2 linked regions of the Homo sapiens genome follow. The main gene of each other region encodes a partner of the protein of the gene in region 2 in a complex. Each region holds a gene or a part of one and is shown on either strand. Other genes may lie near its edges.

Evidence for each region. The genes of interacting proteins can lie anywhere in the genome.
Region 1: the proteins of FAM181A (region 2) and TEAD4 are in contact, whole or in part, in a crystal structure (PDB 6SEN), measured with the Homo sapiens proteins. Residues at the interface, in NP_612353.3 of Homo sapiens: Pro191, Met192, Arg195, Gln196, Leu197, Pro198, Ser200, Phe201, Trp202, Glu203, Glu204, Pro205; in NP_003204.2 of Homo sapiens: Glu263, Ala264, Val265, Gln269, Ile270, Asp272, Lys273, Leu295, Lys297, Trp299, Glu391, Val414, Glu416, Ser418, Ala419, Ser420, Gly423, Gln425, His426, His427, Tyr429.

The regions. Positions count from the first base shown.
Region 1 is NC_000012.12:2,962,397-2,969,898, forward strand, and holds part of TEAD4 (transcriptional enhancer factor TEF-3), read left to right. Parts: intron 1-7,502. UniProt on the Homo sapiens protein: Transcription factor which plays a key role in the Hippo signaling pathway, a pathway involved in organ size control and tumor suppression by restricting proliferation and promoting apoptosis.
Region 2 is NC_000014.9:93,923,316-93,930,108, reverse strand, and holds FAM181A (protein FAM181A), read right to left. Parts: upstream 2,766-6,793; 5' UTR 2,655-2,765; exon of another isoform or gene 2,483-2,654; intron 1,911-2,482; coding exon of another isoform or gene 1,824-1,910; coding exon 945-1,823; 3' UTR 501-944; downstream 1-500.

The DNA.
Region 1 (7,502 bases), on a different chromosome or scaffold from region 2:
GCGATCTCGGCTCACCACAACCTCTGCCTCCCGGGTTCAAGCGATTCTCCTGCCTCAGCCTCCCAAGTAGCTAGAATTATAGGCGTGCGCCACCGTGCCCCACTAATTTTGTATTTTTAGTGGAGACGGAGTTTCTCCATGTTGGTCAGGCTGGTCTCCAACTCCCAACCTCAGGTGATCTGCCCACCTTGGCCTCCTAAAGTGCTGAGATTATAGGCATGAGCCACCACTCCCAGCCGTTTTTTGTATTTTTAGTAGAGGCGGGATTTCGCCATGTTTGCCATGCTGGTCTTGAACTCCTGACCTCAGGTGATCCGCCTCGGCCTCCCAAAGTGCTGGGATTACAGGCGTGAGCCACTGCGCCTGGCCTAAGTCTCCCATTTTAAAGATGGGGAAACTGATGCTCCTAGAGGGACAGTAACTTGCTTAATGCCGCAACCCTGGTGAGTGGCAGAGCAGGGATTAGAACCTATGCTCTCCCCTTGGCGTTCTGTCTCCTGCCCTGTGGATTGCAGTGCTTGTACACCCCCTACTCCCCCTAGCCGCCTTCATCCAACAGGCGCGGAAGCTGGAGCAGACTGACTTGGGCCATGCCTTGTCGCTCAGATAAGGTTGGTAGGAGGCAGAAATACTCTGCTCCGACCTGGCAGAAAGCACATAGCTGTTCTGGGGAAGGAGCCATCTCACTGTAGAATCTGTGGAGTCGGGAAGGGGCCCTCGGGTCTTTAAAACACACCCTCCTCTCCCCTTGATGAGCCGGCAGGTGAAGGTTCTCCCTATCTTTTTAGATCTCCTGGGTTGCAAATGTCACAACCTCCTTTGATTTCCACTCTGGAGTCTTGCCCCGGTGACTGTCACAAAGCAATGCCTGTTGCCAAACCTGTGGCTCCTCCTTCTCCTTCCCAGTGGAAGTGGAGGACGTTGGTCCCCAGCTTTGGACCTTGCCTTTCCTGCAGTTGAGGTCAGTCCAGTGGCAGTTGGAAATTCAGGGCTTGTGAGGGTGGCTTTACCTTGCCTGTCTTCCTTTGCCCCCATGACCCTTTGTTGGCCGGGGTTGGACGACAGCTCCCTTTAAAGCTCTGAAATTGGAGCTGAACAGCTGCTGTCCAGTAAAGGGGGGTGAGGGGGCTGTCAGCAGCCAGGAGGGCCCAGGTGGAGGTGGGGGCAGGGCTTTGTCACTGGGGAGAACACGGTCTCCAGCTCCTATCTTCTAATTCCACTTTTGCCTGGACGCTTTCTGAGATGACGGTTCTTCCCTTGCTTTTGGTTTTTCCCGCTACTATCTGGGAGATTCTAATCACACCTGTGTGATCTGGCCCTGGGGCCCTTAGCTGGTGGGGACTGGATATTTGGGAAAATTTCCACTAGAACTCAGGTCTCCAAGATCTATGCCCACGTCCTCCTGCATTTAATACAGGGGGGCTCCTGGAAGGGCCAGAGGATGGGCCAGGCTCCCTGTAGCGGGGGCTGGCTCCTTGGCTTGGTGTGGGCAGGCGGGCCCCCATGGGTGGGGACTCTGCTTCCTTTGACCCAAACTTCATGGGAACAATAGACTTCAGAGGAGTCACCAGGGGCAGGAAATGGGAACTGTGCAGAGCCAGGGGTGACCCTCCTGGGGGATGGGATTGCATATCCGGTAGAGGGTTGGGGGCAGTGCAGAGGGCGCTGGGGAGGGGCTGATGACACATAGGGTGGGCCTCTGGGGTGGGGCCCTCCTCCAAAGGGGGCCGTTGACTCAGTGTGAAGCTAGAGCTCCGTGCCGGTTCTGTGCTGAGCTTTCGGCTCTTACTAGCACAGGGCTCGTGTTTGCCAGCCTCCGCTCGTGCCACGCTCGCCCCTGCCAGGACTTGGTCTTCCCCTTCCCCTCAAGCCCCTGAGATGTCTTTGCGAATCATCCTGGCTGGGATAAAAGGCTGGTGTTGTTGCTCCCTGGCTGGTCTCCACCTTGGCTGTGAGCCTTGGGCAGTTGTGGCTGGAACGGCGATCTTGGGTTGTGGGCAAAGCTCTGGACAGGGAGTCCCCAGGCTGGGGTCGCTGGACAACGTGAGGGATTTCTTTCTTTCTTTTTTTTTTTTTTTGAGACGGAGTTTTGCTTTTGTTGCCCAGGCTGGAGTGCAGTGCTGCAATCTTGGCACACCACAACGTCTGCCTCCTGGATTCAAGCGATTCTCCTGCCTCAGCCTCCTGAGTAGCTGGGATTACAGGTGCCTGCCACCACACCTGGCTAATTTTTTTTTTTTTTTTTTTGTATTTTTAACAGAGACAGGGTATTTCCATGTTGGCCAGGCTGGTCTCGAACTCCCAACCTCAGGTGATCCACCCGCCTCGGCCTCCCAGAGTGCTGGGATTACAGGCGTGAACCACCGTGCGCCTGGCCATGGGGGATTTCTTTAGCCGCAGGCAGAGCGAGACAGTGGGTGGAACGTTCTGGAGGCGGAGGACTCTTGTCTTGCCTCCATCTTTGTAAGGGTCGACCAGACTTTGTGAGGAGGCCACAGCTTACCCTGAGAGAATTGTGAGTCAGGCCACACAAGCTGCTTTGCCTGAGTTCAGGTTGCCGGATTCTCACAGATAGGCTTTGGGGTCCCAAGAGAAGGTGTAGGAGTGACCCCAGAACCACTGCCAGGACCTGGAAGGAGGGTAGGAGTAGGAGAGACAACACATGCTGTCTTGATTTGTTTCTTCAAGGAAGCAAGATGGGGACCCTGGAAATGGCAGACTCCTAGAATTGATTCCTTGCCCAATTCTTGGTTAGATTTTGTTTTTTAATGATTTTTTATTTTTTGAGACAGAGACTCACTTTGTCACCCGGGCTGGAGTTCAGTGGTGCAATCATGGCTCACTCCTTGAACTCCTGGGCTCAAGCAATCCTCATTGCCTTAACCTGAGTAGCTGGGACTACAGGTATACGCCACCACACCTGGCTAATTTGTAAAGTTTTTTTGTGGAGGTAGGGTCTCGCTTTGTTGTCCAGGCAGAACTCAAACTCCTGGGCTCAAGCAATCCTCCTACCTTGGCCTCCCAAAGTGCTAGAACTGCAGATGTGAGCCATCATACCCTGCCAATTTAAAATTTTCTAGTAGCCACCTTAAAAAAAAAAAGTGAAGTTAATGTTGGTGTTTTCTTAAACCCTAGTGTTATCAAAAATAATTTCAGTGTAATAATTTTTTTTTGAGACGGAGTCTCGCTCTTTCGCCCAGGCTGGAGGGCAGTGGGGTGATCTTGGCTCACTGCAAGCTCCGCCTCCCGGGTTCACTCCATTCTCCTGCCTCAGCCTCCCCAGTAGCTGGGACTACAGGCACCCGCCACCTAATTTTTTTGTATTTTTTAGTAGAGACGGGGTTTCACCATGTTAGCCAGGATGGTCTTGATCTCTCTACCTTGTGATCCACCCATCTCGGCCTCCCAAAGTGCTGGGATTACAGGCGTGAGCCACCGCGCCCGGCCATAAATTTTTTTAAATTATCATTATTATTATTATCGTAGACAGTGTCTTGCTCTGTCACCCAGGATGGAGTGCAGTGATGCGGTCATGGCTTATGCAGCCTTGACCTCCCAGGATCAAGCAATCCTCCCACCTCAGCCTCCTCAGTAGCTGGGACTGCAGGTGTACACGGTTGCACTCAGCCTAGGTTAGATTTTTGAACAAAAATATGTGGAGAGTGTGAAAATGAAGTGAGATACCTAGTAGCCAACCTGGGTTCACTCTACCAAGTCTTGGAGAAAACAACTCTAACTTGGGTGGAGGAATGTTCAGTAAGCCTTTTCAGTCTAATGATCTTCTTGGTACAAGAGAAAGCAGTGTGGTCTGGCTGATACAGCAGGGAGATGGATGTGTGACTGCTTGACCCACTACGCTGGATGCTGACTCCTAACTCCTGAGCTTGTGTTACTGTGAAGAGGTCCCCGTGATGTGCCGCAGGGCTGTCTTTGGCTTAGTCCTCTATGTTTTCCATAGATACGAGCCTCTCCCAGGAGCCTGTGTGGCCTGTGTCTTCTGTTTCTCATTTCTTTTTCTTTCTTTTTTTTTTTTTGAGATGGGTCTTGCTCTGTCACCAGGCTGGAGTGCAGTGGCGTGATCTTGGCTCACTGCAACCTCTGCCTCCTGGGTTCAAGCAATTCTCATGCCTCAGCCTCCCAAGTAGCTGGGATTACAAGCACACGCCACCATGCCCAGCTAATTTTTTTGTATTTTTAGTAGAAACAGGGTTTCACCATATTGGTCAGACTGGTTTCGAACTCCTGACCTTGTGATCTGCCCGCCTTGACCTCCCAGAGTGTTGGTATTACAGGTGTGAGCCACCATGCCCGGCGTATTTCTTTTTTTTGAGATGGAGTCTCGCCCTATTGCCTAGGCCGGAGTACAGTGGTGCGATCTCGGCTCACTGCAACCTCCGCCTCCTGGGTTCAAGCGATTCTCCTGCCTCAGCTTCCTGAGTAGCTGGGATTACAGGCACCTGCCACCACGCCTGGCTAATTTTTGTATTTTTAGTAGAAATGTGGTTTCACCATGCTGGCCAGGCTGGTCTTGAACTCCCGACCTCAGGCGATCCACCTGCCTTGGCCTCCCAAAGTGCTGGGATTACAGGAGTGAACCACCGCACCTGACCCTGTTTCTCGTTTTTATGGGCGTTGAGGGTAGCAAACATTGGCTGATAGAACCAGGGTTCAAAATCATCTCAGTTGACTGGAATGCTGCCATTAAGTAGAAAGATGAAGTTTAAAAATATTTCTCTCTTAAAATTAATATATGTACATTGTAGGAACCCTGGAAAATAAAGAAAGGCATAAAGGAAAAAAATGATACATAATACTATAATTCGGGTGGGCTGGTATTTCGGTGAATGTCCTTCCAAATTTGTGTTCATGCAAATCTATATATTTTAACATAATTGCAATTATACTCTATCCCGTTTTTTTCCCTACTGAATGCTATCTAATGGGTAATAGTGCATGTCATAAAAAATACTTAAAACCATAATTTTAAGGATCCAAGTAACATTGCATTCTATGACTATACTATATTTAACTATGCCCTACTGACTTTAAAACATTGTTTTTAGTTTTTAGCTTTTAAAAATTACTTGACATTGAGCAATGTTGAACATATACTTATCTCAAGAAGAAATGTAATAGGTCTAAGTGTAACATCCTGCATTTAAGTTCAAAGCATCAATTATGTAAGTCTAGAATAGAGTGGGACTTACTCTTCATTCATGTTGAGGGAAAAGGCTTGGGGTTTTGGGCTGAAAAACGAAGGAAGAGGGAAATGAACATTTTAATGCCTGTTAGGTGCTAGACCATTATTCTAGACATTTCTGCCTTCATCATCTCATTTCATCCTCTCAGCCCTGTGAGAAAGGTTTGGTTTGTTTTTGTTTTGTTTTTCAACCTCTACTTTACAGAGGGGACACTGTAGAAGTTATACTGCAGTTGGAGTTTGGACCCAGGTCAATCTGACTCTCAAACTGCCCCATTAAACCATAAGCCTGTGTGGGCCAGTGCTGTGGTAAGGTCTGTGTCAAGGGAAACCTTTACTCACTAAGCTCTGTGACCCTCTGGCCACATTGGAAGCCACATCTGGTTTTGGAAAGTTTATATATCCTGAGCTGTTAAGTATTGAGCTCGCCATTTTTGTGGGTCTTCCTCTACCCCCAACCAGTGATCTGATCTCAAACATGTGGGTCTTTTTTTTTTTTTTTTTTTTGAGACGGAGTTTCGCTCTTGTTGCTCAGGTTGGAGTGCAATGGCGTGATCTCGACTCACCGCAGCCTCCACCTTCCGGGTTCAAGCGATTCTCCTGCCACAGCCTCCTGAGTAGCTGGAATTACGGGCATTTGCCACCATGCCTGGCTAATTTTGTATTTTTAGTAAAGATAGGGTTTTTCCATGTTGGCCAGGCTGGTCTCGAACTCCCGACCTCAGGTGATCTGCCCACCTCGGCCTCCCAAAGTGCTGGGATTACAGGTGTGAGCCACCGCGCCCGGCCTTTTTTTTTTTTTTTTTTTTTTTTTTTGTGAGACAGGGTCTTAACTCTGTCACCCAGGCTAGAGTGCAGCGTTGCAATCACAGCTCACTGTGGCCTCAACCTCCCGCGCCCAAGTGATCCTCCCACCTCAGCTTTCTCAGCTACTCAGGTCTCAGTAGCTGGGACCACAGGTGATGCCATGCCCGCCTAACATTTTTTTTGTTTTAATTTTTATTTTTCATAGAGACAGGATCTTGCTGTGTTTCCCAGGCTGGTGTTTTTTTTGTTTTGTTTTGTTTTAATAGATAGGATCTTGCTCTGTTGCCCAGGCTGGAGTGCAGTGGTGTGATCATAGCTCACTGTAGCCTCAAACTCCTGCACTCAGATGGTCCTCCTGCCTCAGTCTCCCAAGTAGCTGGGATGACAGGTTTGTGCCACCATGCCCTGCCAATTTTTAAAACTTTTTGTAGAAACAAGGTCTTGCTATCTTTATTTTGCCCAGGCTGGTCTTAAACTCCTCGCCTCAAGCGATCCTCCAGCTTCAGCCTCCCAAAGTGCTGGGATTACAGGTATGAGCCACTGTGCTGGGCCTGTGAGTGTCTTAACAGAGGCTGGATGAGGACTTAGAACCTGCCCAGCATCTGGGTGCTGTCATTTCTCATTTCTAGAAGGTAGGCACCCTTTACAGCAGTAGCAGGTTAGGTCCATCTGACCTGAAGTCTATTACTTCATTATGTAAAACCACATAAAACTAGTGGGCCCTCTGTATCTGTAGGTTCCACATGGATTCGACCCACCCTGGATCGACAGTGTTCAGGGGAAAACATTCCACAGAGTTCCAGAAAGCAAAACTTGAATTTGCTGCTCACTGAATGCTGCATTGAATCCATGCAAATGAAGTGATGTGCATGCGTTGTGTTAGGTATGATAAGTTCTCTAGAAATGATTTAAAGCACATGGGAGGATGTGCGTAAGTTATGTGCAAACACTGTACCGTTTTATATGAGGGACTTGAGCATCCTCGGGTTTCAGTATCCTTAGAGGCCTTGGAACCGATCACCCACAGATACCAAAGGACTACTGTACATAGAGTTTCATTATGTAGAACTTACTAGGGATGCTTTGGAGGAGTCTCTGCCCTGCATGGGAAAGGACTAGGTCACCTCCAGGGCCACTGCTTCCTCGAAGATTTTGTGGTCCTGGGCCTCAGTTTCTCCACATATCAGCATGCGGGGATTCCACTAGATGAAACACTTCGGGATTCCTGCTACAGGGAGGTAGTACAGCGAAGCTGCACCTGGAGTTGGAGGCAAGGCTTGGGACGAGGGTGCAGTGTCTGAGCAGTCAGAGGAAGCAGAATGGGGAGATGAGGGAATTATTGCGTGGCTGCCATCGTCTTTGTCCAAACAAGCACGGTGTTAGGAACAGGCGGAATCTGGGTCTTGCCCTGAGGCTGGAGGGTGGGGAAGATGACCCCCCACAACCCCAGAGAGCAGTGGCTATCAGTGCAGACTCCAGAGTGGTGCTGTCCAAT
Region 2 (6,793 bases):
AGAGAAACAATTTGGTCAAGCCCCCTGTTTTGTCCACAGGGACCAAACTCCTGTTTGGCCTGATTTTCCCTCTGACCAGAGTTGGGCACAACCACCTTGGCACAGAGGCTGCCCTGCGGCTGTACACAGAGCAGAAGACACTGCAGAGAGACCCATTCTCATCTCACTGTCCTGCAGGTGGGGCAAGGAGACCCCCAGAGGAAGCGTCTGGCCGCACAGCACAGGGCGGCGCTGATACTGCAGCCCCACCTCCCCTGGTTCCAGCACCTATTCTCCAGAGCACGTTGGACCCCCTTGGGGGTCCACGCCAGCATGTCCTTCCCTAGTGGCTCCTCCGCTCCCCTCCTCACCCTCCTTCCTTTGAACCAAGATCTTGGCCCCCAGCGCCCATTCCCGGATATCTCAGAGGTTTCAGCCGCTCCTGGCCTCCCTGAAACCAGCCACCTCTGCCAGCAGCCCTCAGCCTGGGTGGGGCTCATTCAACTTCATGACACCCAAGATATGGAAACTCCAAAAGAAATGTCTTTATTCTTTTAACTTTCTCAATATTTACAAAGAACAAGAAGAACAAGAACAACAACTGAGATTGGCTCGCAGAGTGGGTGGCAGGTAAACAGATGCGTCTCTCTGGCTTCTGGGGTGACTGCAAGGCAAGGAAGGGCAACATCCCAGTACCTATGGTCTGCACAGGGACAGCGGGACAAGCTGCTGGGCCCTGGCCTGCCTGGGGAGGGGCCAACCAGGTCCAGCCTCCCAGCTTCCAAGGCTGCAAGGCTGAAGGGTCACTGCCTGAGGAGCCCTGCCCCAATCCTGCCCTCCACTCCCATGCGCACACAAACGGAAGAGGCCACACTGTGGCCCAGCCACCTCCTCACAGGAGAGCGCCTCGGGGACCTCGACACTCCTGCAGGCCAGAGGTGGGGGCTGAGGCCCTCTCCGCGTGGCTAGAGGTAGCCAAAGACATTGAAGATGGGTGGGGGCACGGCTGGCTTGGTGGGGATGGGTTTCAGCACCACGGGCCTGCACACCTTCTGCCCCAGGCCGTCCACATCCTTGCAGAGGTGCGCCAGCTCCCCGGGAAAGGCTGGGCTCTTCCTCCAAAGGCCCAGGCTGGGGACAGGACTCTGAGGCAGTGCCCCCAGGGGGCCCGGATAGATGGGCTGTCCATGGTACTGGAAGGGGCAGCAACTCCAGGCATTGACGCGGCCCACCAAGGAGACCCCAGGCATCTTGAGCGGCTCCTTTTCAGCCAGGGCCCTTGGAGACATGGACACCAGGGTAGTCTCAGGTCCCAGGGGCTCCAAGCCCTTGCAATTTTTCTTACCCTCATAGGGAGGTCCCTCCCTGGGGCCCAGTCCCCCCTCCAGCCCCACATGGTAGCTGTGGGTGGGCCTTGGCTCTTCCCAGAAGGAAGCGGGCAGCTGTCTTTTCCTCATGGGCACCTGGCCAGGCTGGGCAGCTTCTGGATGCTGCCTCTGTGGGAGCTGCTCCTTAGCAAGACATTCCTCCCTGTAGGGGTTCCTCAGCACCTTCTCCTTGCAGCCCCCACCCCCGCCGGGGCTGGAATCAGGGCCCAAATCCAGGAGCAGCCTCCTGGGCCGGTCCTCAGACCCCCTTTTCAGGTAGGGCTCAGCAGCTCTGCCAGGAAGGCCCCGCGGGAGCCGGGAATACTTCTGGGAGAAGCGCTTGAGCTGCTTCTGCAGGTACTTGCGATGGTCCACGGAGCGGCGGCAGGGTGCGGACTTATCCAGGGCTGCCTTGATGTCGCTGGACGCCAGGTTCACGAAGTTCAGCAGCATCTTCACATCACTGTCGGATGCCATCACCAGGGGGCCACTGCACGAGGCTTTCCATGAAGAGGGTAGGCTCTGCTGGTGGCCGGCAGCTCCAAGGAAGGGCACCGAGCTGACCTGGGGGACAAAACAGGCCATCGGAGTCTCTCCAAGCAACCACACCCAGCCCTCCCAAAAGACCACAGCACCTGTCTACAAACAGTCTCCCCACCCCAGCACCTCTCAGCCCTAAACAGAGTCCTGGGTAGAGGGATGTGGGTGCAAGTGGCTGAGCACTTCCTGCACACCTGGGATGCGGCAGGCACCAGCAGAGCCTCGCCCAGCCTGCTTGGGTCTGGTGCCCCTTCTTGCAGCCAAGGCTCAGAAAGGTCAAGCAAGTCGCCCAAGGTGACCCAGCTACAGGTGGCATTGCTGGGGCTGGCACACACTCCCAGCCTGCCCCATCTCCCACACACCACGCTGCCAACGTGTGCAACTTGCCAGCGAGGTGTTTATTCTCTGAGCTGAGGCAACTGTTCCTCTTTAAAGCAAGGCCAAGCCCCCTTCCTCCCTGGTGGTAGCCTCCCCCTCCCACCACTCCTGCCCCCAGCACGAGGAGCACCAGCCCCCCTCCTCAGTCCCCACGCTCCACCCCCAGCTCTCACGCAGGACCAGGCAGGACCCCTGTCTGGCACTTAATCGAGACCTGCCTTGCGGGCTGATCTCAGGCTGCGGGCAGCAGGGATTCCCCCGAAGAAGCATCTGCAGCAATTTCATGCCTCCTCGGCCGCCACCCACGGCACCTCGCCCCTCCCCCAGGCCCCAGCCTGCCCCCACACCCGCCACCCAGTCGGGCCAGAGCCACCGGGCCTCCACACTGACCGAAGGTGCGGCCCAGGCCCCACCAACGTGGCCCGGCAGGTTCCCCACTGCAGACCTGGGACAGGCCCCGGCGCAGCCGGCCGAGCTCCGTCCGGCTGGAAGCAGTTGTGCAACCCTTGAGTGGGCTGAATGGAGGACAACTCCCCGGAGCTGGGGGGCCCCTCAGGCCAATCAGGAGCGCCTCTCCAGATACAAAGCATCCCAATCAGGCGGCGGCGCCCCGTTCCCACATTCTTTGCCGTCACAAATTGTCACCATGGGGACCATCACAAAAAAGACAGCTCCCAAATGCAATCATTTCCCGGTAAATTTCTACCCTTCAGCCCCACTCTCCTCAGCCTCCACCCCCCTCCTCCCCTTGACCTCAGTTCCCTGGTTTCTCAAGGGGGTGGGGTGTGTGTGTGTGTGTGTGTGTGTGTGTGTTTAAAATGTCCAGGATTGAGAAGGGGCTGGGCCTAGTGGAGACAGGCTTGCAAACCTCCCCCAAAGACTCCAGGCCTACAGCTGCCATGCTCCAGTGCGGACAGACAATCGGACGGGGTAAGCCGGGGCGGGCTGCTTTTCCCGCTGTCCTTGAGTGTTGAGTGGCTCTCTCGCTCTCACTCTCTCTTCTCCTGTCTCTCTGTCTCTCTCTCTGTCTCCCCCTGCCACCCCCACCACCCTCCCTGCCAGGATCCCCCAGGGATCGGGGATGGAGGGCCTTCAAGGTCAGGAGGTGCGCTGATGCCTGTCGGAAAAGGTGGCCGAGGAAGGACTCTCTAACGAGGTGCTGGGATATCCATGGGAAGGGAGCTGGAGCTCTCAGGAATCTTGTCTTTATGTTTGCTTCCTCAATTGAGCTGCACAAAGCCTGAATTGCCCATTCAGCGCAGCCGGACAAAAGGTTGGCGTTGCACGGTCCCCTTGCATTTGTAGTCAAACAGTTAGGGACTTAAATCGAGTCGTCATGATGGAGAAAGAGGTGGACAAAGCCCATAGAATTGCCATCAGCAAACATTTTCCTGTGTCATATTAGCCAGTTTCCATGGCTCCCCCTGGCCTGCGGACAATGGGACAAGTTTGCACACTTGGCTACTGTCACCGTGCCAACGCCGGCGGGGCTGCAAGCAGGGCCACTCTGAGCAAGCAAGGGAGCCCAGAGCCGCTGTTGGCCCTGCCCACCAACTGGCCAGAGGGAAGGTGAGGCTGAAGGCGAGGGCGGCCGCCTGGGAAATGCTAATGGTCGTGCCTCCGTGCCAGCCCAGCTCACGGGCCCCTTTCACGCCTCATCATTTTTCTGCCCAGACTCAGCCTCCTCTTCCCTCCTCCTCTCCTTCCCCTTCCTTTTCTCTTCCCCTTCTACTGCCTTCTCCTCCTGTCTCCCTCACCAGCCAGATGGCTGGTGGCCTGTGCGCCAACCCACACCTCTGTACTACAACCTAAGATTTGGCATCTTAGGTTGCAGGACTCCTCCCTGGAGTCTCCCTACCCAGACTGGGGGCATTGGCAGGGCAGAGCCAGGGCCTCCATCCAGAAGTGATGGCCCTGCTCCTTCCCACTGGCCAATAGACAGCTGCTGTGGCCTGACTCCAAGCCATCTCCCCTACCCCTGGCCTGAGGGTCCTTACAGGCAAAATGAAGGGTTTGGAGGAGATGGCCCGGTGCTGACAAGCTGTGACTCAATTTAGGCCTTGAAAGCCAGCACTGTATTCTCCATGCCCCTACCCTGCTGCGGGGTCGGGGAAGTGTGGACCGAGATGGAAGTGCCGCTGGACTGACGCATCCTAGATTGTTGGCCACTACGTGCCCTGGAGGGTTGCTCCTGCCTGCGGCAACCTTTGCATGGGTGAGAGCCAAACCATCATCATTTTAAGTGCCAGAGATTTGAGGGCTATGTGTTTCTGCAGCACGTCCCAGCCCACCCTGACTGGTACAAGCAGGAAACATCCTTTCTGCTCCAAAACATCTGGCACGCGTGGCTGAAGAGAGCGCCCTGAGGGCCTGTGGCCACCAGGGCCAGCTCCCTGCTGCCTACTGTGTGAGGCTGGTGTGCACAGCCAACAGTTTGAACCTCTCCAGCAGCTGGCATCTGACTACGTAACCACCTGCTTTGCTGTGCTCGCCCTTTTCTCCCCAGGCCTTCTGTGATTTGTGGGGGCTGCATCATTCCTCTCTCCAGAAGATCTTCTCTCTTCTAAGGGCATCAAGACATTTTAGAGCCACTCAGCTCAGCTCCCAGCTTCCTTGAGATCCCACGGCACCTGCAGCCCTGCTGGCCCATTCTGCACTGCCCGCTCATGAAGCTGTCTCTCCTTTCTTAGCCAGTAGTAAGCCTCCCCACCAGGCCCGTGGACTCCGTGGGAGGTGAGTTGGTGTCTTACGAAAGTCTTTCCAAAGCTCTTAATGTGGGCTGTTCTTCCACCAAACACTTTTTGAGGAAACAGAGAAGGAAGAAAAGAGGGAAGAGAGAAAGGAAAGGGAGAGAAAAGTGGAAGAAAATGGATTCTTTGTGGACACCCAGCATGTGCCAAGAGCCGTATTCCACAACCACATGAAGACCTCACCTGACCCTCGGGGCAGCTCCGTGAGGGTAGTGTTGTGGTTGCCCTGACAAATGAAGTGAGGTTGAGTTACTTTCCCAAGGCTTCACAGCTGTTAACCAGCAGAGCTTGAACTTGAAGCCAGGCCCGTCTGTGTCCAAAGGCTGAGTTGGATCTGCCTGGCCACATTGCCTCCTGGAGCTCCCGTGAGCACCAGATGCTGCCTAAGCGCTGCCGGCCAGGAAGACCAGATTTTCTCCATGCGTCCTGGGTTCCACTCTTCTAGCACAATGTTGGACCTTCCCAACTCAGGAATATGGGAGCTGCAGCTTTGGGAAGTCAGGAGCAGGGAGAGGAGGCAACTGTGGCTTGAGGCCAGGCCTCTGGATGCCTCTGACCCACACAAGGGAAGGCTCCTCTGTGTTTTCTGATTGGCCATATAGGCAGGTGGAAAGACAGCAGTAATCACACCAGTCATAAGACTCTCCCAGTGTTCTCTCATTATTGTCCTGGGTCTGGGCAGAGAGGGGATTATTTTTCCCATTTACAGTTGGTGACACACCCACAGAAGCCTCAAACCTGATTCTTGGGCCCAACTCAGCCAACCCTGTCCTCTCAGCCATTCTTAAAGGCCCAGCTCAAACACCCCCTCCTCCAGGATGCCTTCCGCCAACTCCTAGCATTGTTAATAACGCCCTCTCCCATCCCTGTGTTCCTAGAGTCAAAGATGAAGTCTAACCTCCTTAGCTAAATGCAGAAGGCCCTTTGTAATCTGACTCCTACTAGAGCCTGGCACAGAGTAGCTTCTTACTAAATGTTTTAAGAATTAAATACTTTGCCCATTCCAATGAGCAGGATTTTTCCTGTGAACCGTAAACAGCTGCTTCCTGTCTTATTTTTTTAAATTTTGTCTGTTTATTGTTTGCCCCATCCAGGTGAGCTCCAGAAGGGAAGGGAGTTCTTTCACAGCTTTCTGTCTCTGTATCTCCTGTGACTTGAATGGACTCAGCACACAGCAGGCCTGAGTGAAGGATGCTTGTGGTTGCTATGGCTTACATGACAACGAATTGTCTGTAATCCTACAGGACTATGGCACATGAAAGCTGGAAGCGCTTCTTTCCGACTGCATCGCCCAGCACCAGAGCCCGAGTTCTGTAAAGCTCTGTTAAAGGCACATGAGCTGTGCTGGCTTCAACTGCCCTGAACTTGGATAAGCTGGGCCGCTGATGGACCCTTCCCAACCGGTTGTTGCTGCCTTGGTTTCCCGACAGTCCACTGTGCTGACCCTGCAGCAGGGACTCCCAGCTTTGCATCAACTCCATTCAACACCTACTGTGTGCAGGGACCAGAGGGTGTGGAGGTGGCATTCCCTGCTTTATCTTGATAAGTAAACGTTTGTCTCCTGCCCACTCATCAGTGAAGCAGAACAACTACCTAGCAGTCTCCTGGGAGCCACCCCTCCAGAACCTCTGGATGTCAACAGACACCATCTACTTATAGGATTCAGCCAGCACATGTGTAGACTGGAGCTGCAAGTGAGAAGAGGCATCTGGCAGGGCATGCACAGGCCAAGCCTTAGGGACCCAAGGAGCTCATCTGGGGCAGTGGGTTTTCAAATTG